Linked DNA regions of Homo sapiens. The protein of the gene in region 7 interacts with the protein of the main gene of each other region in a pairwise test. Each region holds a gene or a part of one and is shown on either strand. Other genes may lie near its edges.

What was found.
Region 1: the proteins of CCDC57 (region 7) and TRIM14 interact in binary tests that used the Homo sapiens proteins (3 or more experiments, as listed by UniProt).
Region 2: the proteins of CCDC57 (region 7) and TIMM44 interact in binary tests that used the Homo sapiens proteins (3 or more experiments, as listed by UniProt).
Region 3: the proteins of CCDC57 (region 7) and IKZF3 interact in binary tests that used the Homo sapiens proteins (3 or more experiments, as listed by UniProt).
Region 4: the proteins of CCDC57 (region 7) and POM121 interact in binary tests that used the Homo sapiens proteins (3 or more experiments, as listed by UniProt).
Region 5: the proteins of CCDC57 (region 7) and ZSWIM3 interact in binary tests that used the Homo sapiens proteins (3 or more experiments, as listed by UniProt).
Region 6: the proteins of CCDC57 (region 7) and DTX2 interact in binary tests that used the Homo sapiens proteins (3 or more experiments, as listed by UniProt).

The regions. Positions count from the first base shown.
Region 1 is NC_000009.12:98,095,223-98,098,722, forward strand, and holds part of TRIM14 (tripartite motif-containing protein 14), read right to left. Parts: intron 1-3,500.
Region 2 is NC_000019.10:7,933,667-7,937,166, reverse strand, and holds part of TIMM44 (mitochondrial import inner membrane translocase subunit TIM44), read left to right. Parts: intron 1-2,021; coding exon 2,022-2,102; intron 2,103-2,928; coding exon 2,929-3,078; intron 3,079-3,163; coding exon 3,164-3,303; intron 3,304-3,500. UniProt on the Homo sapiens protein: Essential component of the PAM complex, a complex required for the translocation of transit peptide-containing proteins from the inner membrane into the mitochondrial matrix in an ATP-dependent manner.
Region 3 is NC_000017.11:39,757,218-39,760,265, forward strand, and holds the end of IKZF3 (zinc finger protein Aiolos), read right to left. Parts: 3' UTR 501-3,048; downstream 1-500. UniProt on the Homo sapiens protein: Transcription factor that plays an important role in the regulation of lymphocyte differentiation. Plays an essential role in regulation of B-cell differentiation, proliferation and maturation to an effector state.
Region 4 is NC_000007.14:72,938,595-72,942,094, forward strand, and holds part of POM121 (nuclear envelope pore membrane protein POM 121), read left to right. Parts: coding exon 1-87; intron 88-741; coding exon 742-815; intron 816-1,252; coding exon 1,253-1,374; intron 1,375-1,819; coding exon 1,820-1,922; intron 1,923-2,222; coding exon 2,223-2,399; coding exon of another isoform or gene 2,400-2,417; intron 2,418-3,242; coding exon 3,243-3,500. UniProt on the Homo sapiens protein: Essential component of the nuclear pore complex (NPC). The repeat-containing domain may be involved in anchoring components of the pore complex to the pore membrane. When overexpressed in cells induces the formation of cytoplasmic annulate lamellae (AL).
Region 5 is NC_000020.11:45,874,614-45,877,117, forward strand, and holds part of ZSWIM3 (zinc finger SWIM domain-containing protein 3), read left to right. Parts: intron 1-2,100; coding exon 2,101-2,504.
Region 6 is NC_000007.14:76,482,209-76,485,708, reverse strand, and holds part of DTX2 (probable E3 ubiquitin-protein ligase DTX2), read right to left. Parts: intron 3,202-3,500; coding exon 2,562-3,201; intron 1-2,561. UniProt on the Homo sapiens protein: Regulator of Notch signaling, a signaling pathway involved in cell-cell communications that regulates a broad spectrum of cell-fate determinations.
Region 7 is NC_000017.11:82,195,843-82,199,342, reverse strand, and holds part of CCDC57 (coiled-coil domain-containing protein 57), read left to right. Parts: intron 1-918; exon of another isoform or gene 919-920; coding exon 921-1,029; intron 1,030-2,246; exon of another isoform or gene 2,247-3,500. UniProt on the Homo sapiens protein: Pleiotropic regulator of centriole duplication, mitosis, and ciliogenesis. Critical interface between centrosome and microtubule-mediated cellular processes. Centriole duplication protein required for recruitment of CEP63, CEP152, and PLK4 to the centrosome.

The DNA.
Region 1 (3,500 bases), on a different chromosome or scaffold from region 7:
CATGCGGAGGTGCGGTTTTTCAGTGCTGGCACTGGGGATTCCTCCCTCTCCATCCTTCCTCCTTTCCTTCCTTCCTTACGTGTTCATTGAAACCTACTCTGTGCCAGCTATGCATGCAGAAGGCAGGGTCAGGCTGACACGGGGCCCTTCCCAGAGAGGCTTCAGCCTCACACACACTGCGCCACGGGTCTGCCTTGGGTACAAAAAGGGTGAGAGGTCAGTCTCCCTGGGGAAGGAGCACCTGGAGCTTATTCAAAGGTGGAGCAGGAAACCATGTTCTAAGAAGGACGCCAAAGGCCAGCAAGGTTCAGCTGCAGTGCTGACTGAGGGGGTGTGGCCACCGCAGGGGACATGTGTCCTGTTTTGCACCTGGACAGCCCCTCTTCAATACTTTCCTGTGGTATGTGGCTTCACTAAGGAGAAGCTAGAAAACCCCCTCTCCCAGCTCCCTTTGCACCTGTGCTGCAGGAGTGTGACCAGACGCCTCCAAGCCAAAGCGTGGATTTGGAAATGACGGTGAAGGTAGTGATGGTGGCATGTGGCACTGAGGGACAGCAGTGGTGGGGGCTCTGGTCAGTGGTGTGAGTGGTGATGTCTTGCCCAGCAGGGGTGCCGTGGGGCCTATACTGGCACCAACCCCTGCTGGAGTCTGGACTTCATTCCTGCTGCCCATCTTCCATCCCGACTCTCTGGCCCTCCTGGAGATCCTATGGGCTATCTCATACTCTTCCATAAACTCCTTTCTTGCTTAAAACAGTTCCAGTGGATTCTCATGTTTGCAGGTAAGAACCATGGCTGCATTTTCTGAAGCTCTGTCCTGGCCAGGAGTTGGAAGGAAGATGACTGCCTCAGGTGATCAGGCTTGGCTGGCAGTGGCAGTGCTGCCCACCCGAGAAGGGGTGGACAGATGAGGGCCTCAGGAGGGAGGGAGGGTGGCCTAGCACTTGGCTGTTGGGCAGGGGCAGATCCCACCTGGCAGCATGCTGTACATTGGGAGGGGGCTGTGAGATGGCCTGCAAGCCCCATTCAGCCTAGGAGGCCAGGAGTCTATAGAGTCCAACCTCATTTTGGTGGGGAACCAGGCCTAAGGTCACACCCAGAGCGCTGGAATGGAGCTGGCCAGGGGAGACCAAGCACTAGCAGGAAGTCCAGGGTGGGCAGGGAGCAGCTCCGGGGAGGCGAGAGGGGGCTCAGAGGGCAGATGAGTAGGGTAGGATGAGGGGTCGATAGAGGACACATGGCACCACCTGGTAACCCCAAACTCCAGCAGCTAGCACCAGACCTGACACACAGGTTCTCAAAACATATGTATGATGGAATAAATCAATGCATGAAACCGAGCACAGCCACTTTTTTGCCTTTGCAGACTCAGAGAACAGAAATCCCAGCCCTTCATCTCTCAGGCCAGAAACCCAGGCATCATCTGGGGATTCCTCCTACCCATTCTCCAATTCCAATCTCCATTCCTGTGGCATCTCTTGACCTGCCTGTTTCTCCCCATCCCCACTGCCCCTGTCTTGGTCCAGGCCACCATCATCTCTCTCCTGGACATTGTGGCCTCCTCCCAAGTTCTCTTCCAGCCTCCCATCCTGGCCTCCTCTGTCCATCTTCCACTCTATCTCTAAAGTGACTTTTCTAAAGCACTAATCTGACCATGTGAATGCTTTCATCCCTCAGTTCAAAACACTCCCCTGGGCTGGGTGCAGTGGCTCACACCTCCCAGCTCTTTGGGAGGCCAAGGTGGGCAGATCACTTGAGGTCAAGAGTTTGAGACCAGCCTGGCCAACATGGTGAAACACTGTCTCTACTAAAAATACAAAAATTAGCTGGGCATGGTGGCACGTGCTTGTCGTCTCAGCTCTTCCAGGGGCTGAGGCAGGAGAATCCCTTGAACCTGGGAGGCAAAGGTTGCAGTAAGCTGAGATTGAGCCACTGCATTCTAGCCTGGGCAATAGAGTGAGACCCTGTCTCAAAAACAAACAAACAAACATTCCTGTCTCCTATCTCATTACAGGACAAAGTCTGAACTCCATGGCACATAAGGCCTTCATGAACTAACTATGGCCTATGGATCCAGCTGTGTCTCTCAATCCCCCCACCCTTATACCCTCACCTCTCCTCAAGTCAGGCTGCACCCCAGCTGGTTCCCCAGCCTGTCAAGCTCTCACATGTACACAGTTCCTGTCTGTCCTCTCTGCGTCCTCTCTATATACAGTGTGCTCCTACTCATTGTCCAGCACCCAACCCTACCATCACCTCTTCCTAGAAGTCTTCCCAGACTGCATCCTTCTCCCAGCCAGAGAGTGTCAGACATTTCTTGGACATAATTTTGCTAGCTTCATATTTACAAAATTGTTTAAGCTGTATTGTAAATAACTGTTTCTGAGCAAGTCCCCCACCCAACTGTGAGCTCCTAATGTCCAGCAAGTGACCTGGCTCAGTACATATTGATGAATAAACGAATGAACACATAGAAGGTGGGAACGGTGAATGATTAAAATCATTAGCTGTGGCCCAAGAGAATTTGAAAAAAAAAGATGACAAAGCCCTGAAACCGTTTTCTGATGTGAGAATAGCATGCTTCTCCATGGAAGGATTCCTTTGTATTCCATAGCCTTAAAAACGACCATTATTTAAAAAGAGACAATTACATGTAACACTTTGTGCATCTTGCCTCTCTTAAAGCACAACACCCATTATGCCTAGGAAAACACTTCATCCAGAATTTGGCTCAAACAGCTGACAATGAGACACAGGCTGAACCGACTGAGGCCACATAAAGACACAAGAGTGGAAATCCCCAGCTGGAGACTGGCTTGGCGGGTTTTGTGTTGACTGGCTTATTTGTCTGTCTTATTTTCCAGCCAGAGCCCATACTAATCTGTGGTTAGAGTTGGTGCCACTTTTAGTTGTACCCTGCCTTGTCCCACAGCCTTTAAAGTGTCTTGTGAAGGTCCTCTAATAAGGCAAGATTTTTCTTTATAGCGAGAAAAATGAAGCTAAGAGAAAATTAGACACAAAGTGTTTGCCATGAAGCCTTAGTCTGGTTAGTCAAAGCAGATTTGGCTCTGAACTTCCCAAGGCAAAGAAGGAAACAGGAGGAGCTCTATTAGTGGAAAAGCAATTCTAGTGCAGAAGTGACTGCACAGGGATATTGACACCAGACAACAGTTTCTTCCACGGTTCCCTAAAGACAGGAACACCATCGGCCGGGTGCGGTGGCTCACGCCTGTAATCCCAGCACTTTGAGGGGCCGAGGGGGGCGGATCACGAGGTCAGGAGATGGAGACCATCCTGGCTAACATGGTGAAACCCCATCTCTACTAAAAAATACAAAAAATTAGCTGGGCGTGGTGGGGGGCGCCTGTAGTCCCAGCTACTCGGGAGGCTGAGGCAGGAGAATGGTGGGAGGTGGAGCTTGCTGTAAGCCGAGATCACACCACTGCACTCCAGCCTGGGCGACAGAGCAAGACTCCGTCTCAAAAAAAAAGAAAAAAGTA
Region 2 (3,500 bases), on a different chromosome or scaffold from region 7:
GCTGGGATTACAGGCGCCCGCCACCACACCCAGCTGATTTGTTGTTGTTGTTGTTGTTGTTTTTTGAAGCAGAGTCTTACTCCATTGCCCAGGCTGGAGTGCAGTGGTACGATTTTGGCTCAACACAACCTCTGCCTCCTAGGCTCAAGCGATTCTCCTGCCTCAGCCTCCCGAGTAGCTGGGATTACAGACACACACCACTACTGCCCAGCTAATTTTTGTATTTTTAGTAAAGACAGGGTTTCACCATGTTGGCCAGGCTGGCCTTGAACTCCTGACCTCAAATGATCCACCTGCCTTGGCCTTCCAAAGTGCTGAGATTACAGGTGTGAGCCAGTGCGCCCAGCCCTATATATCTTTTTATAGAGACGGGGTTTCACCATGTTGGCCAGGCTGGTCTCAAACTCCTGGCCTCAAGTGATCTGCCCGTCTCAGCTTCCCAAAGTGCTGGGATTACAGGTGTGAGCCACTGCTCCCAGCCTGTCATTATTAATTGTCACTTCTCTTCTTGAGCAGCTGCCAAGCCCTGGCTTCTGGGAATGGCTCTGCATTCCTTTATTTGTAAGGGCCCTGCGAGGCAGTTACAGTGTCCCCATTTTACCAATGAGCAGCTGAGCCTCAGAGATGCAGGCACCTGCCACGGGTCCCTTGCATTTTGGTTTGGTTTGGTTTCATTTGTGTTTTTTTGTTTGTTCGTTTTTTGTTTTTCTCCTTTGAGATGGAGTCTTGCTCTGTCAGCCAGGCTGGAGTGCAATGGTGCGATCTCGGCTCACTGCAACCTCCGCCTCCCTGGGTTCAAGCGATTCTCCTGCCTCAGCCTTCCAAATAGCTGGAATTATAGGCGCCCACCACCACGCCAGGCTAATTTTTGTATTTTTAGTGGAGACGGGGTTTCATCACTTTGGCCAGGCTGGTGTTGAACTCCTGACCTCAGGTGATCCATCCGCCTTGGCCTCCCAGAGTGCTGGGATTACAGGCATGAGCCACCGTGCCCAGCCTAGTTTGGTTTTTTGAGACAGGGTCTTGCTCTGTCACCCTGGCTGGAGTGCAGTGGTGTGATCACAGCTCACTGCAGTTTTGACCTTCCCATGTTCAGGTGATTCTCCCACCTCAGCCTCCTGAGTAGCTGTGACTAAAGGCATGGGATACCACGCCTGGCTAATTTTTTTATATTTCTAGAGACAGGGTCTCGCCATGTTGCCTGTGCTGGTCTCGAACTCTCTGGGCTCAAGCGATCCTCCCATCTCAGCTTCCCAAAGAGCTGGGACTACAGCTCACATGCCCAGCCCCTCTTTATCATTAATGCAGGGGTCATCTGAAGACATAGCAGGCTGAGTTTGGAGTGGGATGGATGGAGCGGGAGACATAAGACCAAGCTGTGGTGGCTGGAGGCTGGATGAGGGGCACAGTGATGACAGGCAAGGCCACCTCCTACCACCCGGTGAAAGGTGAAGGCTGGGCCTCCTGTTCTCAGGAGGTAGCTGCCAAGCGGGGACCCGAGTCTGCCGGCCTTCTGAGCAAGGAGCTCACCGCTGCTGAGACCCTCAATCCAAGCCATGTGGGCAGCCGGGGGCCCTGGAGGCAGCACATGCTGGCAGGTGCGGGGAGGGAGGGGCTGCGGAGAAGATGCTTCTTGGACCTTTGGCTGTAAGAGAAATGTCACTGCCGTGTCAGAACATACAGACTTAAAGACACAACGGTTGGCCAGGCACAGTGGCTCACACCTATAATCCCAGCACTTTGGGAGGCCGAGGCGGGTGGATCACTTGAGGTCAGAAGTTTGAGACCAGCCTGGCCAACGTGGTAAAACCCTGTCTCTACTGAAAATACAAAAATTAGCCAGGCATGGTGGTGGGCCCTGTAGTCCCAGCTACTCGGGAGGCTGGGGCAGGAAAATCGCTTGAATCTGGCAGGAGGAAGTTGCAGTGAGCCGAGAGCGTGCCACTGTACTCCAGCCTCGGCAACGGAGACATTGTCTCAAAAAAAAAAAAAAAAAAAAGGACACAGCGCTCTTTACCTAGAAAACCATCGAGTCAGAAACCGTGCGGACGAGCGAGGTGCTACGGAAGAAGCTTGGGGAGCTGACGGGCACCGTGAAGGAGGTAACAGTTCCACGCCCGCCTGGAGCCGCTGGGGCCATCAAAGTCCCCTGGCCGCTGGAGGCTGGAGGAAGAGTCGGCTCCTGGGTGGGGGTGGCTTGGCAGCAGTGGGTGGCATGGGGCGTGCTGCCACCCTCGGGAAGGTTTCAGGAGTTCCCGGCACATGCAGGGTGAGGTCAGACTGGCAACCTTGCATGACCGTTGACCCAGGGAGTCGGCAGCAGTAAGTGCTGCTAGCCAGGACTCGAGGAGAACATGAAAATGTTTTTCCTGCCTAAAAATAGGAGGAGAGGGGCCGCTTCCACCCCCTCCCGAGGGTAGAGGCGGGAGGCAGGATTCCTGGGGTGCTGCGGCTCTCCTCGGTTGTCTGTTCTGTCCAGCTTTGCGCAGCATGGGGCGCCCTCACCGCCGTTCTTTCCCCGGGGTCCCCTCCTTGGGAATCCTTGCTGCCAGGCAGTTCCCGGGTCTCCAGAGGACTCCTGCCCATTTTGGAAAGGGGCCAGCAGACCCAGCGTCTCACCCAGAGCCCAGGGCCAGCATCCCGGAAGCCGTGGCGGTGTGCTCATGGCTCTGGGGGTGCCGGTGTGCTCATGGCTCTGGGGGTGCCGGTGTGCTCGTGGCTCTGGGGGTGGCGGTGTGCTCGTGGCTCTGGGGGTGCCGTTGTGCTCATGGCTCTGGGGGTGCCGCGTACCACAGGAGCACAGAAGGCCTCTGCCGGCCTCGGGGAACCAGATCCGCCCTTCTCTCCGGCAGGAATTCATTCCTCCTGCCCCGCCCCCCGGCCGCCAGGGCCGGTGCCAACGCCCCCTCTCTGTGTCTGTCTCAGTAGAGCCTTCACGAAGTCAGTAAAAGTGATCTCGGCCGGAAAATCAAGGAGGGCGTGGAGGAAGCAGCCAAGACGGCCAAGCAGTCGGCCGAGTCGGTATCCAAAGGCGGGGAGAAGCTGGGCAGGACAGCGGCCTTCAGAGCCCTCTCCCAGGTGAGCCCAGTCCTGGGCTAGGGCATGCAGCCTGGGGCGGCCGAACCCAGACACCCACCCCAGCCCCGCTGTGCCTCCCTCGCAGGGGGTGGAGTCCGTGAAGAAGGAAATTGACGACAGCGTCCTGGGACAGACCGGGCCCTACCGGAGGCCCCAGCGACTCCGGAAGAGAACGGAGTTTGCGGGAGATAAGTTCAAGGAGGAGAAAGTGTTTGAGCCAAACGAGTAGGTACCAGCCCGTGGCCCTCGCTGCCCCCATTTTGGGCAGCTTTCACTGCTGTCCATTTCGGGAGCCCACCAATGGTTCCCTCCTGAGTCCGTTTCTTGAGTTTGCCTTCTGCCCAAGGTTCCCGGCTCCCTCGAATTTGAGGGTGAGAGGTGAGGGCGGGGTCCTCAGAGCCCCTAGGTTTGAGGTCTCAGCT
Region 3 (3,048 bases), about 42 Mb from region 7:
CGGTTTGGGTCTCCAGGTATCTAAAAACTGTATTTAAATATGGTCGAGTTTAAGGACTGCAACTCAAGTTTCCCAATGTGGATGTCTGTGAGCCCCCACACATGAAAAAGTCAGAACTTGACTGTATTTTAAGAAGAATCTCTGTTGAGGGAGGAAGGCAGAGCAGTGACTTGGAATAGGGGTGCACCATGCTGAATGTGCTGATCATGCTAAGTCCAGGTCCTCAACCTCCTCCAGTTTCCTTAGTGAACTAAGGACCAGTGGAACCAGGAACCCTATCTTGTGGGTTACAGGGGCCAGCAGCAGGATCACAGTGGTAGGCTCAGCAAGGCGTCAGGTGAGAACCTTTATTTCAGTGATAATTCATTTTTCTTGATAACTGGACTTTAAGAAATAGAGGGGCAAAATTAAGAAAGTATTCCTTGGGGCGGGATGAAACCCTTCTACATCCTGACACCAGCAGACACAAATCATAAGTGATAAGGATGCACAAGGACTAATTTCAAACATACCAGGATTTTTTTATTTTTCAGTGTAAAAATCAAACATGATAAACCTAGAAAACTATCAGCAGGGCTATTTCTTACAGGGTTCCAGCAAGGGTTAGCATTGTTACATTTCAGAAGCTGACTTTCTTTAAACCATCTTTACAGAGGAGTAAACTTCACAGTTCCACACATGGCTGGGCTCCAGGTAGAACTCCATAGGAGTGACGAGGGAAAGTCACCACTGGGCAGGGAGGGCATTTCTGAGAAATGCAGATGAGAGGAGAGGCTGTGAGCACAGGCTGTGTCAAAACCCAGGGCAAGGGCTCCCTCCCGCCTTCCCTCCCAGTGGGAAGGCCACCCTGAGCCCCAAACCACATTCTGTTCCTTCCTCGTCATTCTGCAGACAATGGTCATCCACAGACCACACGTGTGGTGGCTTTGGCAACCAGAAATTTAAAATAAGCTATGGTTTTTCCAGTAGCCAAAATGATCCTGCACCAAAGCTCATAGACTGAGAACCTGAGCATGCAAAACCACAGTCTGGGTGAAGGGATGTCTGCTTTGTAAATGACCTGCTAATTCTTTGCAACCCACAGTAATTTGGTTTCTGTGAACCCACAGAAGCAGGCCCACCAAAAAGGGCCTTGTCTGCTAGCCTGGAGTATACATGAGTCACTGGCGGTGGGATCAGTCATTTTTTAGGCTGCCCCATTTTCCTAACATGTTAAAATGTGTGTTCTCAGTCTTTTCAAGAGAGGAAGAAGCAAAGCGGCACTTACAGAGTGTGAGATAGACACAGATCTGTGGCGAGGGATTGGGGAAGGTGGGTGGCATCTTGGGACTCTCTCCAGGCTTTCTGGAGTGGGGTCAGTGGAGAGATGAACAGTGAGAAACATTTGAAATAACTCAAGTTTTGGAGCAGCGGGGGGTGGGGTACTAATGGCTGAGGACTCACAGACAGTGAGGGAGCAAAGCGCTTTGACTTCCCTGGGTGCGACACCATGAAGTGTCTATAGCACGTGGTTAGCTCACGCTGGTTCCAAGGGTCAGCAGATCCTCTGCCCTTGTGCATTAAAACAACATGAAGGAAACTGTTAGAGATCAGTTACCTCCATAATTCATTTGTAAAGGAATTGCTATTATGATCTAGTATGATCTTGGGATATTTTTCATGTCTTTAAATTTAGGACACGGTACATTTTCCACTGAAAATTTACAATCATCCAACATAATGCACACCACCCCTCAAAGGTAACATTAGCTCATATACAAAATCATGGAAAACCTCACAACATCCTTGGAAGGTAGATATTGTTATATCCTTACAAAAATTTAATACACCCATTAACATTCCTATTTCAAATAGCTCAATCGATATCAACACATAAGACAGCCCACAATTGTGATACAGTATTAAGAAGAAACTCAGGCCAGCCGCGGTGCCTCACGCCTGTAACCCCAACACTTTGGGAGGCTGAGGTGGGCAGATTACTTGAGCCCAGGAGTTCAGGACCAGCCTGGGCAACATGGTGAGACCCTGTCTCTACAAAAAGTACAAAAATTAGCTGGGTGTGGTGACCCACGCCTGTAGTCTCAGCTAGTTGGGAGGCTAAGACGGGAGGATGGCTCGTTGCTTGAGCCCAGGAGGTTGAGGCGGCAAGTAAGCCTTGATTGTGCCACTGCACTCAGCCTGGGGAAACAGAGCGAGACTTTGTCTCAAAAAGAAAAAAAAAAAGAGGAAACTTGTATCCAATTTATTCAAACTGCAAAACCCTGTGTATCTTCATAACAATGGTGGGGCAAAGACTATCTACAGCTGGGGCAAGGGAGAGGCACAGTCTTGTGTTACTTTACAAGCTCTCAGAAGTTTAAAGCCCACAATTGTCCTTCAGGCTCTTCTGAGTCCATGGTCCTAAAGGGTCAGGAGTCCTGAACCCTGGCTTATTCTCAGAACCATTCAGTCGTGCTGCCTTGGAGAACAGAGTCCTTTTCCTGAGGTGGCCCAGGTCCAGCTGCTGGTTTCAGATCAAAATTGACCTCCTTCATCGGCACTTATATCTCAAATCATTCTCCTTGTCTGAACTCTGGATATAGAGGTTTTTTGAACTATACTTTCTGTGTGAACACAAAAATAGCTTCCCATTCTCTAAAAGATGAGGTATCACTATATATCGGGTTTTTTTCTTCTGTTCCTGGTGCTAACTTTTAGGACAAAGTTTCACCACTCCCTTTTCTCTTCTTGAGCTCACAAGTCCCGATGCTGACTCTTTGAGTCCTCAGATAGCCAGGCTCTTTCACATCTTGAGTGTCCCAGAGTTTCCAAATCTCTGCTAGAGTCCAACATACCTCTTCTCAGTGGGGTACTCTTTAAAGTGAGGACTTAAACATTTCCATTGTGGTCTTATCACCTGGGATTATATGTAACAGTACTATTTTTTTCCTTAAAACATTCTTTTTTTTTTTTTTTTTGAGATGGAGTCTCACTCTGTTGTCCAGGCTGGATTGCAATGGCGCGATCTCGGCTCACTGCAACCTCCACCTCCCAGGTTCAAGCAATTCT
Region 4 (3,500 bases), on a different chromosome or scaffold from region 7:
GAAGAGAAATGGCCCCAGTTCATCACCCTTCTCTAGCCCAGCCTCCTCCCGCTCCCAGACACCGGAGAGGCCAGCAAAGAAAATAAGGTACTTGGCATTCTCCTGCAGTTTTCATTTGCTGCGTGGACAGGCGGGGGTGAGGAAAGGTGGGAAACGAACCTGGCTCTTAGGCTTTGTGCTGCTGTGACTTGGAGAATCAAAGAAACTTAAGTCCCTGAGAGGTACAATGCAGTACCCACCCGAAGTGCTGTCATCCCTACAGTCTTGGATACTGACTCCAGTGGCCTCTGGCTGTCGCCTCCCACTCCAGCATGAGGGATCGGGTGCAAGCACAGAGGCCATGCAGAGTGGAGAGCAGAGAGAGTCAAGTCAGCGGGCAGTCGCCTTCAGGTTCTTGACTCGAGCTGACCCCCTAGGTGCTTGCAGTTGGCTGGAATGCCACTCCCTCAGGGATCACATCTGTGTCTAGAACTCCCAGGGACTTGATAGGTTGTAAGTAAGGTTTGAAGATTATTGTTTTGTGCTTGTTTTAAGACAAAAGCTGTCTTCATGGCCTCTGTGAACAGCCTCCCTTCATTCTGTTGGAATTTCCTGTTGACTTTTTTTATCCTGGCATACTGAGATCTTAAATGATGGTTGTTTTAGACATTGGCCACTTGGTAGTTAGGAGGGTGTGAGAAATTATTTAATACTTCAGCCAAGAAGCCTTTCTAGACTAAATTGTTCCTTTTTTCCTGACAGAGAAGAGGAGCTGTGTCATCATTCCAGTTCTTCAACTCCATTGGCAGCAGACAGGGAGTCCCAGGGAGAAAAGGGTAGGTTGCTGAGCCAGGAGGAGGGGCTGCTGTTGGTGGTGGAGGTGTTTGTGGAGGATGTAGAGATTAATACCTATTGAAAAAAGGTCTTGAGCATTGCTATGTCTAAGGCATGTTAGATACAAAGAGAGAGATTTCCTCTCCTTCAGAAGTTTATAGTCTGATGAGGGAGAAAGGCTACAGACAGGGACTAACGATTGGATAGAGGTAAGCTCAGTTTGAGTCACCTGTGGGTGATCCCAGTAATTACTGCACAGTAAGCGGTTTGTGTGCGCGCCTTAATCTTGCAAACACCATCCAAGCAACCAAACCATAGAAGATTGAATCTTTTCAGAGATACCCATTGAAAACTCAATGTGAAATGCGAAGTGGGTAGACACAACCATCCATTTCTGGAAGAGGGAAGGAAGCAAACGAGTCTTGATTTCTTTCTTTAGCTGCAGATACAACCCCAAGGAAGAAACAAAACTCGAATTCTCAGTCTACACCTGGCAGCTCTGGGCAGCGTAAGCGGAAAGTTCAGCTGCTGCCTTCTCGGCGAGGGGAACAGCTGACCTTGGTATGGTCTTGTCCATCTACTCCTGCCCTCCCCGGCTTAGCTCTCCTAAGTATTAGGAACGCTAAGGACAAGTTTCTTCTGATTTTTTTTCTAATTTATTTTTGTTTTTGTTTTTTGAGACAACATCCCTCTGTCACCCAGGCTGGAGTGCAGTGGCTCGATTTTGGCTAACCGTAACCTCTGCCTCCTGAGTTCAAGCAATTCTCCTGCCTCAGCCTCCCAAGTAGCTGGGATTACAGGTGCTTGCTACCACGCCTGGTTGATTTTTTGTGTTTTTAGTAGAGATGGGGTTTCACCATGTTGGCCAGGCCGGCCTCAAACTCCTGACCTCAAGTGATCCAGCTGGCTTGGCCTCCCAAAGTGCTGAGATTACCGGTGTGAGCCACCATGCCTAGCCTTCCCGTTTTTTCTGATTGGCCTGACTTCTTCTTTTTCACTTTGGTAGCCTCCACCTCCCCAGCTTGGCTATTCGATCACTGCCGAGGACCTAGACTTAGAGAAGAAGGCTTCATTACAGTGGTTCAACCAGGCCTTGGAGGACAAGAGCGGTAAGGAGCACAGATTGTTGCACACTGGAGAGGTTTCAGGTGTCTGTTTTCTTTGGTTTTATTTTGGTGTTTGAAAAAATGGGTTTCTCTGGGAAAATCCCAAGTAGGGTTCCATGTTTTCTTGTGGTCTTTCTCACCTGAGATATCCGTGTTGGTCTTCACGGGAACTGGACAGCAGGGACCACTGCAATTGAGGGCAGGCATTCCTCCATGAGCTGTGCTGAGAGCCTGCTCTCCGACAGGCATGTGGAAAGAAGTCCCAGACAAGCCAGGACTGCTTCACCTTTCTTTCTTTCTTAGATGCTGCCTCGAACTCTGTCACTGAGACCCCACCTATCACTCAGCCTTCATTTACCTTTACCCTGCCTGCTGCTGCACCTGCCTCCCCACCCACCTCCCTCCTGGCCCCAAGCACCAACCCACTGTTAGAGAGCTTGAAGAAGATGCAGACTCCCCCGAGCCTGCCACCCTGCCCAGGTGAGCTGGAGTGGGGCCGTGGATCCAGCCTTCTGAGCAGCATCCCCGGCTTGAGTTGGAATAAGGGCGTCGTGCCTGTCAGTCGCTGGAGATTGCTCTGCAGGCCGAACGCACCCTGGCTCAGCACACCGGAGCGGGCCCACGTTTAACAGCGCCAGAGCCCGCATCAGGAAGTGTTAGAGAAGGGGTGCTGCGACGCTCAGGATCTGAAGCCTGGCTCGTAGCTGCCCTGAGCCTCGCCTTCCTCATCTGTCAGATGAGAATGATCTTCCCTGTGCGGCACCTCTGAAGTGTGAATGTGGTGGCGTGGTCAGGATATCCTTGCCTGTCAGAACCACTGGTCCAGAACAGCACTGCTTCCTTTCCCTCCAGCACTTCGAGGGCTGCTGGTGTTCCCGGCCCAGGCCTTCACGGCACTGCGCGCGCACACCTCTTTATCAGACGGTAACCTGGGGTTCGTACGCACCCTCCCTGCTCAAGGGCAGAGACTTCCCCATTCATAGTTGTGTGCTCTTAGCGCCTGGCAGGTGAGCTTAGTAGGCAAATAAAGTATATCTAGATTCATACGTGAACTTCAGAGTTCAGACAATTGGACTGTCTTAGTCTCTACACATTAGGCCCCCATTTAGGCCCCATTTTATCCCCTTCTGTCTGATGATCTGTGAGGTAGAAATAACACTTCCTTGATTTACTGTACAGGCCTGTAGTGTAGACTTAGCTGAGTTTATTGACTGACTCTTGGATCCCAGGCTCTGTGGTAGGCGTGGGGAGGACACTGAAATACTGAATACCATCATCTTTGAAGTGTTTATTCCAATTTCACATTTTCTATTCTTCTTCCAGAATCTGCTGGAGCAGCAACCACTGAGGCCCTCTCACCTCCAAAGACACCCAGCCTCCTACCCCCGCTGGGTTTATCACAGTCAGGGCCGCCAGGGCTGCTCCCCAGCCCCTCCTTTGACTCCAAACCCCCGACCACTTTGCTGGGGCTGATCCCTGCTCCATCCATGGTACCAGCCACTGACACCAAGGCACCTCCAACCCTTCAGGCAGAGACGGCTACCAAACCCCAAGCCACATCTGCCCCGTCCCCCGCCCCCA
Region 5 (2,504 bases), on a different chromosome or scaffold from region 7:
TAGTCCAATGTCCTGGGATCCTCGCTTTTATCTTTGCTATCTGGAGAAGGAAGAGACAGCGGTAGTTCCCAAAAGACACAAACAATGGGGACATTTTAAACGGGAGTAACCAGCTAAGCACTCTGCTGCTGCTGCTTGTCTATTTGCCCTCTTGTCCTGCCTCAGGGTGAATTGTTGGCAGCTACAAATGGCAACCAAGAGAGAATGGAGTTGGGGCTTAGAAGTGCGGTAGAGGAATATGAAGGGGGCTGGAGTTGGAGAGGCTCTTAAAGAAAGAGCTGACTATATTGGGACTGGAGAGTTAATGTAAATCTCTTCTTGGTTCATGGGGATTTTGTTGTTATTGTTTTTTTCCCCATGACACAACTCTCAGGAGATCCTGAGAACACGTGCCCTGATTTGGGGGGGGTTTTAATTTTAACTTTTTTTTTTTTTTTTTTTTTTTGACAGAGTCTCACTCTGTCACCCAGGCTGGAGTGCGGTGGCGCCATCTTGGCTCACTGCAAGCAAGCTCCGCCTCCCGGGTTCACGCCATTCTCCTGCCTCAGCCTCCCAAGTAGCTGGGACTACAGGCGCCTGCCACCACACCCAGCTAATTTTTTGTATTTTTAGTAGAGACGGGGTTTCACTATGTTAGCCAGAATGGTCTCGATCTCCTGATCTCGTGATTCACCCGCCTCGGCCTCCCAAAGTGGTGGGATTACAGGCGTGAGCCACTGTACCTGGCCAAAATTTTTTTTTAATTAGAGACAGTCTCTTGCTGTGTTGCCCAGGCTGATCTCAAGCAGTCCTCCCACCTTGGCCTCCCAAAGTGCTGGGATTACAGGCGTAAGCTATAGCACCCAGCCTTCCTTCTTTCCTTAATTCTATTTTTTTTTTTGTTTGTTTGTTTATTTGTTTGCTTTTGAGATGGGGTCTTGCACTGTTGCCTGGGCTGGAGTACAATAGCGTGATCTCGGCTCCCTGCAACCTCTGCCTCCCAGGTTCAAGGGATTCTCCTGCCTCAGCCTCCCGAGTAGCTGGGATTACAGGTGCCTGCCACCATGCCTGGCTAATTTTTTGTATTTTTAACAGAGACAGGGTTTCACTATGTTGGCCAGGCTAGTCTCAAACTCCTGACCTTGTGATCTGCCCTCCTTGGCCTCCCAAAGTGCGGGGATTACAGGCATGAGCCACCATGCCCAGCCTTCCTTAATTCTATTAATATATGAATCCTTTTCTTTTTTTTAAAAAAAAGAGATAGACTCTTGATCTGTTGCTTAGGCTGGAGTGCAGTGGCACAAATCAGAGCTAACTGCAGCCTCAAACTCCTGAGTTCAAGCAATCCTCCAGCCTCAGCCTCCCGAGTAGTTGGGACCACAGTTGGGAACCACTACACTTGGCCCTACTACGGGTTTTTCCTGTTTGTTTGTTTTTTGTTTTTTTGTTTTTTTGTTTTTTTGTTTTGAGACGGAAGTTTGCTCTCGTTGCCCAGGCTGGAGTGCAATGGCGCGATCTCAGCTCACTGCAGCCTCCGCCTCCCGGGTTCAAGCGATTCTCCTGCCTCAGCCTCCCGAGTAGCTGGGACTACAGGCATGCACTACCATGCCCGGCTAATTTTGTATTTTTAGTAGAGTCGGGGTTTCTCCATGTTGGTAGTCAGGCTGGTCTTCAACTCCTGACCTCTGGTGATCCGCCCATCTCGGTCTCCCAAAGTGCTGGGATTACAGGTGTGAGCCACCGCGCCCAGCTGTTTGTTTTTTTGAGATAGGGTCTCACTCTGTTGCCCAGGCTGGAGTGCAGTGGCATGAACATGGCTTACTGCAGCCTTAACTTCCCAGGCTCAAGCGATCCTCCCTTCTCTGCCTCCTGAATAGCTGGGACCACAGGAATACACCACCACACCTGGCTGATTTTTAAATTTTTTGTAGAGCCAGGGTCTCTCCATGTTGCCCAGGCTGGTCTCAGACTCCTGGGCTCAAGTGATCCTCCCACCTCAGCCTCCCAAAGTGCTGGGGTTATAGGCATGAGCCACTGTACCCAGCCCCCTTCAGGGTCTTATCTTTATAAGGGGTGGGGGGTGGTCAGCACCTTTCTCATTGTTACCTCTACCTTCCCTAGGTATGTGCAGGTGAAATTTGTCTGCATTCGGACCCAATCAAACAGGAAGAGAACGCGGGAGGCAGACATGTGCCCAGCGTACTTGCTCCTAAGGTACAACGAGAGACTAGATAGACTATTTATCAGTGAACTAAACACACAGCACATACATGGTGACTCTAAAGTGGCTAGTCCTGGAGGAGACACCACTGGCAAATCTCAAAAGACAATGTGCCTGCAGAGACTCCAGCCTGTGCAGCCCACAACCAAAAAAGACCTTGACACTGCCGAGAAGTCCCTGGTTGAGCCATCGTTTTGCCTAGATAAGGTACAAGTGTCCTCAAAGCCAGAGCAGGAAGGCATCACTCCTTCTGACCTGGCCAAGATAGCAAAAGTGATGAAGAACTTTCTTAAGGTAGATGAGG
Region 6 (3,500 bases), on a different chromosome or scaffold from region 7:
AGCTCCAGGAAGCTGAGTGGAACAGGGCTGACAGAAGTCCCAGCACCTCTAAGAACCCTCCTGGGCCAGCAGATAGAGCACACTGTTCTCTGAAACAGGCTGACCCAGATACTCAGGGAGGGAAGTTGGGGGAGCATCTCCCTGAGCCTGGCTTGCCTATGTCTATGTCCTCAGAGAGCCCCGATGACACCTTCCTATACTCCCAACTCCCAGAAAGATCTCAGATGCACGTGCCCCAACTCCTGGCAGAAGATGCCCCGGAAAACTCTGACTCACCCAAGGCCCATCACCCTCCTGTCTACTGGCCTCCTCCTAGCTCATCCCTCAAGAGGCCTTTTGGGCCAGGTGTGGTGGCTCATGCCTATAATCTCAGCACTTTGGAAGGCTGGGGCAAGAGAATTGCTTGAGGCCAAGAATTCAAGACCAGCCTGGACAACATGGCAAGACCTTGCCTCTACGTAAAACTGAAAAATTAGCCGGGTGTGGTGGTGTATACCTGTGGTCCCAGCTACTCAGGAGGCTGAGGCAGGAGGATCACTTGAGCACAGGAGTTCAAGCCTGCAGTGAACCATGATTGCACCACTGTACGCTAGCCTGGGTGACAGAGCAAAACCTTGTCTTTAAAAATAGTAATAAAATAAAATTAAAATGTATTAAAAGAGCCCCCTGCCTTCCCGGGAATGTCAATAACTCCCCATGTGCCCCAGATAGCCCACTCTTGGGGTCTGGGCTGAATCCCAGCTCCGCTACTTGCTGGCTGTGTCGCCAACCTCATGGGCCTGAATGTGCTCTCCTGTAAGCGAAGAACACTGCTCAGCCTGAGAGCATCGTGGGATGAGTGAAGTCACTCAAGCAGCCTGCTCAGGAGGGCCTGGCACATGACACGAACCAATGAGCGGGAGGCGCTGTCACTGTGTCTTACACAAGCTGGCAGGGTCCTCGGAAACCCAGTCTGAACAAATACTAGAGGTCCAAGAAGCTGCCAAGGCGGTCTCAACCACCCTGTGAAGTTTCAGCCCTTGACGTGGCTGCGGTGGGCAGGGGTGGGCCGGTGAGCAGGGAGGCAGCAGGATGCCGACCAGGGCCAGTGCGGAGAAAGGAGATGATTTCCTCCCTGGGACCAGGGTGGCCCCAGGCCCACCCACTCCCTCACCACCCGCACCAGGGCACTCTCAGAAAGCCCTGTCCCAGCTACCACTCTGAATTCTCAAAATGTGCTCCAAGCCCAACATTCTCAATAATGAATGACGAAGCCCCAAGTCACCCAGACAGTCAGAGGGCTACGGCCAGCCCATTCACCTTGGCCAAATCCAGGGAAATCCTGGGGGGGTTCCTCATTTTATCTTTTTTATTTTTTTCCCCCGAGATGGAGTTTCGCTCTTTGTTGCCCAGGCTGGAACGCAGTGGCACGATCTTGGCTCACTGCAACCTCCACCTCCTGGGTTCAAGGGATTCTTTTGCCTCAGCCTTCCAAGTAGCTGGGATTACAGGCGCTGGCCACCATGCCTGGCTAATTTTTGTATTTTTAGTAGAGATGGGGTTTCACCATGTTGGCCAGGCTGGTCTTGAACTCCTGACCTCAGGTGATCCGCCCACCTCGGCCTCCCAAAGTGCTGGAACTACAGGCGTGAGCCACTGGGCCCAGCTTTAAGACAGGGTCTCGCTCTGTCACCTAGGGGGCTGAAGTGCAGTGGTGCGATCACAGCTCACTGCTGCCTTGACCTCCTGGTCTCCAGCAATCCTCCTGCCTCAGTCTCCCAAGTAGCTGGGATTACAGGTGTGTACCACCATGCCTGGCTAATTAAAAAAATTTTTTTTGTGGAGATGGGGTCTCGCTATGTTGCTCAGGCTGGTCTCTGACTGCTGGGTTCAAATGATCTTCCTGCCTTGGCCTCCCAAAGTGCTGGGATTAAAGGTGTCAGCCTCTGTGCCTGACCAATCTCCTCATTTTAAATGCCACCCGCTCTGGTCTGCACTGGGCCCGTGGTATCATTCTCTCTCTCTCAAGGAGCTGAGCGCTCTACCAGGCACTCTGGGCTGGGCTGCATCATCACGGGGGCCAGGTCACCCATGCCACCTGCAGCCACTGCCACGTGCTCCACATTCTGCCCTCCCTCACACCGCGCTGACAGCCCCTTGCACTAGACTAGGGCTCAGGGGTAAGGGCTGATACTCTGGTCTCTGGGTCCTTAGGGCCTGGCACAAGGCGGGAGTCAGTGTACAGGCAGTGACCCAGTGTTCTCGGGCACAATGCTCGCCATGCAGCCCGCAAGCAGAGGCCACAGGCCTTTAACTCTGCTCCATGTGGAGGCCCTTAATCATCATGAGTGAAAGGACTGTAGATTCTAACCCGTGTGGTGACCGCCAGGACTCAGGTACAAGGGGTCAGGTAGGCTCTGGATGGCCACGGCACCTCGGCACCCACATGCCACATGCAAATGAGATGCCACGGCAGGACCACCTAGGGGGCAGGAGCCGCATCTGCAGGAATTGGGGTGAGTCTTCCCGGCTAAGAGCGGAAACACAGGGCAGACAAAACGAGCGGCCGTTGCCCACGATACCTGACTGCACCGGAGGTGGAGGATCCTGGGGGCAGGTGCTGCGGTCCCAGGTGGGAGAGGCTGGAGCGGTAGAGGGGCTGGCTCCCCAGGGAAGGAGGAGCTGCGCCCCAGGCGTTGGTGGTGTTCAGCCTGGGCGCAGACCGGGCCCCGGAGAGTGAGGGTTTGTTGTACGGTGCAAAGGCCTGGTGGGTCCCAAACACAGAAGCGGTCCTGTGTGGGGGGTGCTGGGGGACGGGGTATGCAGGGAGGTTGGTCATGGAGTGGCGGTAGCGGCCTGACACGGGGCCAGTTCTGCTGCCACTGAGGCACTGGTGGCAAGAGCAGGCGACGCCTGTGTGGCCCGGCGGAGCGATGATGGTGGTCACCGGGTAAGGCGGCCCTGCTTGGCGCCGCACGCTGCGGCAGAAGCTGGAAGTCTTGTTGGTCTGCGTGTGGGTGGTGTAGTTGACAGTGTAGTTGTACCCCAGGGGGGCCAAGTCCACGAGCTGGTTGCCCCTGGCCACCTGCTGCTCCAGATAGTCACAGACGCTGGCTTCATAGGCAGTCCAGGAGCCATCGTCGCTCAGCCACTCCCAGACGACACCTCGGCCAGGGGCTGAGTGCTGGGGGAACAGGTGTCTCCGCACAGCCCGCATGGTGCCTATTTTCAAAGGAAAACAAAAGGTTAGTCTGCTAGCATCCCCAAGATACAGGGAACGTTCAAATTCTTTTTTCAACCGCCAAAATAAACAAATAGGAACACAGTAGGTACACAGTCATGCTGCTATTTGTTTATTTATTTATTGTTAGAGGCAGGGTACCCCTTTGTCGCCCAGGCTGCAGTGCAGTGATGTGATCATAGTTCACTGCCACCCTGACCTCCTGGGCTCAAGCGATCCTCCTGCCTTAGCCTCCTAAATAACTGGGACTACAGGCACATGACACCACACCCAGCTAACT
Region 7 (3,500 bases):
CCATGCCCGGCTAATTTTTGTATTTTTAGTGGAGATGGGGTTTCACCATGTTGGCCAGGCTGGTCTTGGACTCCTGACCCCGGGTGATCCACCTGCCTTGGCCTCCCAAAGCGCTGGAATTACAGGCGTGAGCCACCACACCCAGCCTGCTATAGCTTTTTCTTTGCTGAGATTTGTTTTTCCATTTGCTTTACTAGATTACTTGAAGCGCTTTTATAATGACTGCTGTAGCTTCCTTGTTGAAGAATTCCAGCGTCTGTGTCATCTTGGTGTTGGCATCTACCTATTATCTTTTCTCCTTCAAGCTCAGATCTTTCTTTTTTTTCCTTTTTCTTTTTTTTTTTTTTTTTGAGATGGAGTCTCGCTCTGTCGCCCAGGCTGGAGTGCAGTGGCACGATCTCAGCTCACTGCAAGCTCCACCTCCCGGGTTCACGCCATTCTCCTGCCTCAGCCTCCCGAGTAGCTGGGACTACAGGCGCCCGCCACCACGCCCGGCTAATTTTTTTTGTATTTTTTTGTAGAGACGGGGTTTCACCGTGTTAGCCAGGATGCTCTCGATCTCCTGACCTTGTGATCCGCCCACCTCGGCCTCCCAAAGTGCTGGGATTACAGGCGTGAGCCACTGGGCCTGGTCAGATCTTTCCGGTTTTTGGTTGTCAGGTTTTTTTTTTAATTGTATCCTGGACATTTTGGGTTTTATGTTGTGAGACTCTGGGCCCTATTTAATTTCCTCTTTTATAGATGGGTGTAGCATGCTGGTCCAGGTGGGGCTGGAAGTTCTGCTACCCCGTGGGTCCTGCTGAAGCCACCCCTTCATAAAAGCAAAGCACCAACTTTCACATGTCAAGTGCACCTTGAAAATGTATTACCTTTGCTGAATATTTGGTATGGCTTTTCTTAATGCTGTTTTATTACCATAGTGACAAGAATGGTGAGATTGACCACCACCGGGAACAGTATGAAAATCTAAAATGGACACTGGAGAGAAAACTTGAGGAGCTCGACGGTGAGCTTGCTCTGCAGAGACAGGTAGAGCCTCTGGGTCGGCCCCTTCCTGGGTGCTTTCCCTGCCTGCCCACTGTGAAACTGAAATCATATAGGGCTGAGGAAAAGACAACCATTTGGTTCATTGCCTGCATTCTCCTTGGGAGTAAAATGGGGTCTTTGGGGCAGATGCCACTCTGGGATGGTCTGCAGGGAAACAGGATGGGATGTCTACATGCAGCCACCTCCACAGTGTTTCCTTGTTTTCTTTCCTCATGGATTAGTCAGGGTTCTCCAGGGAAACAGGCAATAGGAGACGTGTAGATATATAGGAGATAAATTGTAGGAATTCACTCGTGCAGTTACGGAGGCCATGAAGTCCCACAGTTTGTCATCTGCAAGCTGGAAAACCTGGGAAGCTGGTGGTGTAATTCAGCCCAGGGGCAAAGGCCTGAGCACCAGGGAGCCACTGATGTGAGTCCTGGTCCAGCTCTGAAGGCCCAAGATGCAGGAGCCCAATGTCCAAGGGCAGGAGAAGGCGAGTGTCTCAGCTCAAGCAGAGAGAGCGAGTTCACCCTTCCTTGCATTTCGTTCTATTCAGGCCCTCAGTGGATTGAATGACGCCCATCCACAGGAGGAGGGCTAGTCTCTTCTGGAAACACCCTTGCAGACACTCCCAGAAATAATTTTTTACCAGCTATCCGGGCAGCCCGTAGCCCAGTCATTTGACACATGGAATTAACCAGCACACCTCAGAAATGATGAAACTTTTAAATTTATTTTTAGAAAGGTATAATTTTAAAAACATGAATTATTTACTATGGAAAAGAATTTGGAATTCAATTATGATAAGTTTAAAAACAGATGCTTCAACTGAAAAGTGGCAGTCACCGAATTTCTCCTCAATGTTCTGGAAACTCAGCCTACACCTCCAAGAGACTCAGCTGTGCTGGGGTTTTGTTGAAAGACATCCTATAGATTTATATCTAGAGACCACAGTCAGAGATGCTGCCACTGTGTGCATATGTGACAAGGGGCTGCATCTCTGCAGGTTTACGTGTGATGAGGGGCTGTGCCTGTGCAGGTGCAGGTGTCATGAGGGGCTGCGTCTCTGCAGGTGCAGGTGTCACGAGGGGCTGCGTCTCTGCAGGTGTCATGAGGGGCTGCGTCTCTGCAGGAGTCACGAGGGGCTGCGTCTGCAGGAGTCACGAGGGGCTGTGTCTCTGCAGGTGCAGGAGTCATGAGGGGCTGTGTGTCTGCAGGTGCAGGAGTCACGAGGGGCTGCGTCTCTGCAGGAGTCACGAGGGGCTGCATCTCTGCAGGAGTCATGAGGGGCTGCGTCTGCAGGAGTCACGAGGGGCTGAGTCTCTGCAGGAGTCACGAGGGGCTGCGTCTCTGCAGGTGCAGGAGTCACGAGGGGCTGCGTCTCTGCAGGTGCAGGAGTCACGAGGGGCTGCGTCTCTGCAGGTGCAGGAGTCATGAGGGGCTGCGTCTCTGCAGGAGTCACGAGGGGCTGCGTCTCTGCAGGTGCAGGAGTCATGAGGGGCTGCGTCTCTGCAGGTGTCCTGAGGGGCTTCTTCTGTGAAGGTGCAGGTGTGATGAGGGGCTGCGTCTCTGCAGGTGCAGGTGTAATAAATGGCTCTGTCTATGCAGGTAGGTGTAAGTGTTACTAGAAGCTGTGTCTATGGGGGTGTCATAAGGGGCTGCGTCTGTGCAGGTGCAGCAGTGATGAAGGGCTTTGTGCAGGTGTGACAGGGTCCCCTCTCTGGTCCTGTCGGATGTTGGGAGCTTGGTCATAGTAGGATAGGCCAGTGTGTCACTAATTTGCCACAGTCAGGTCAGCAGAGAAGGAGGCCACGCTCACGTCATGATGGGCCCTCCTGTGGACTGTCCAGTTGTCCCCGGAAGTGCTGAGCTCACTCCCGTTGTTCACAGGTCCCTGAGGCTGCTTCTGAAATGGCCTGCAGAGGACTTTCTCTTGGAATTCTCAGAAACCAAAGAGCTTTGTCGATTATGGATGAGTTTGAGAACAGCCGGAGTTCTTTAGGCATGAAGCCAGCGTCTAAAATCCGTGGTCAGTAAGAGACCAGTGGTGACTTTTCTAAGTAGTGAGGCTTCCTCAAGTGGCTCCAAAGTCACTTCCAAAGAAGGAGTTTGAGGAGGATCCAGCTGTGGGTGGTCCTGCCCAGCAGGTGGGGGGCTCTTGGCAGCATCTGGGGACAGTGGCGATTTGAGGCTGGTTGTAGTTGGCAGGGCGCAGCCATTCTTGTCAGAGTTTCTGGCTGGGCCGTGACTATGGCTGACTTCCCAGGCTGTCCACGCCGAATTTCTCAGACTCAGCAGGGCTCGTTCAGGGAGAGCCATCTCAGACGTTGGGAACATGGATTTTTTATCATGTTCAGATAGTATCCTTGTCTCTGGAAAGAAGGAAACGTGACGTTTTAACGTGGCAGCTTTGGTTACTAGGGGAAACTTGGGCAGCACACATCCGGTGTGGTTCTGGGTAGTCCGATCCT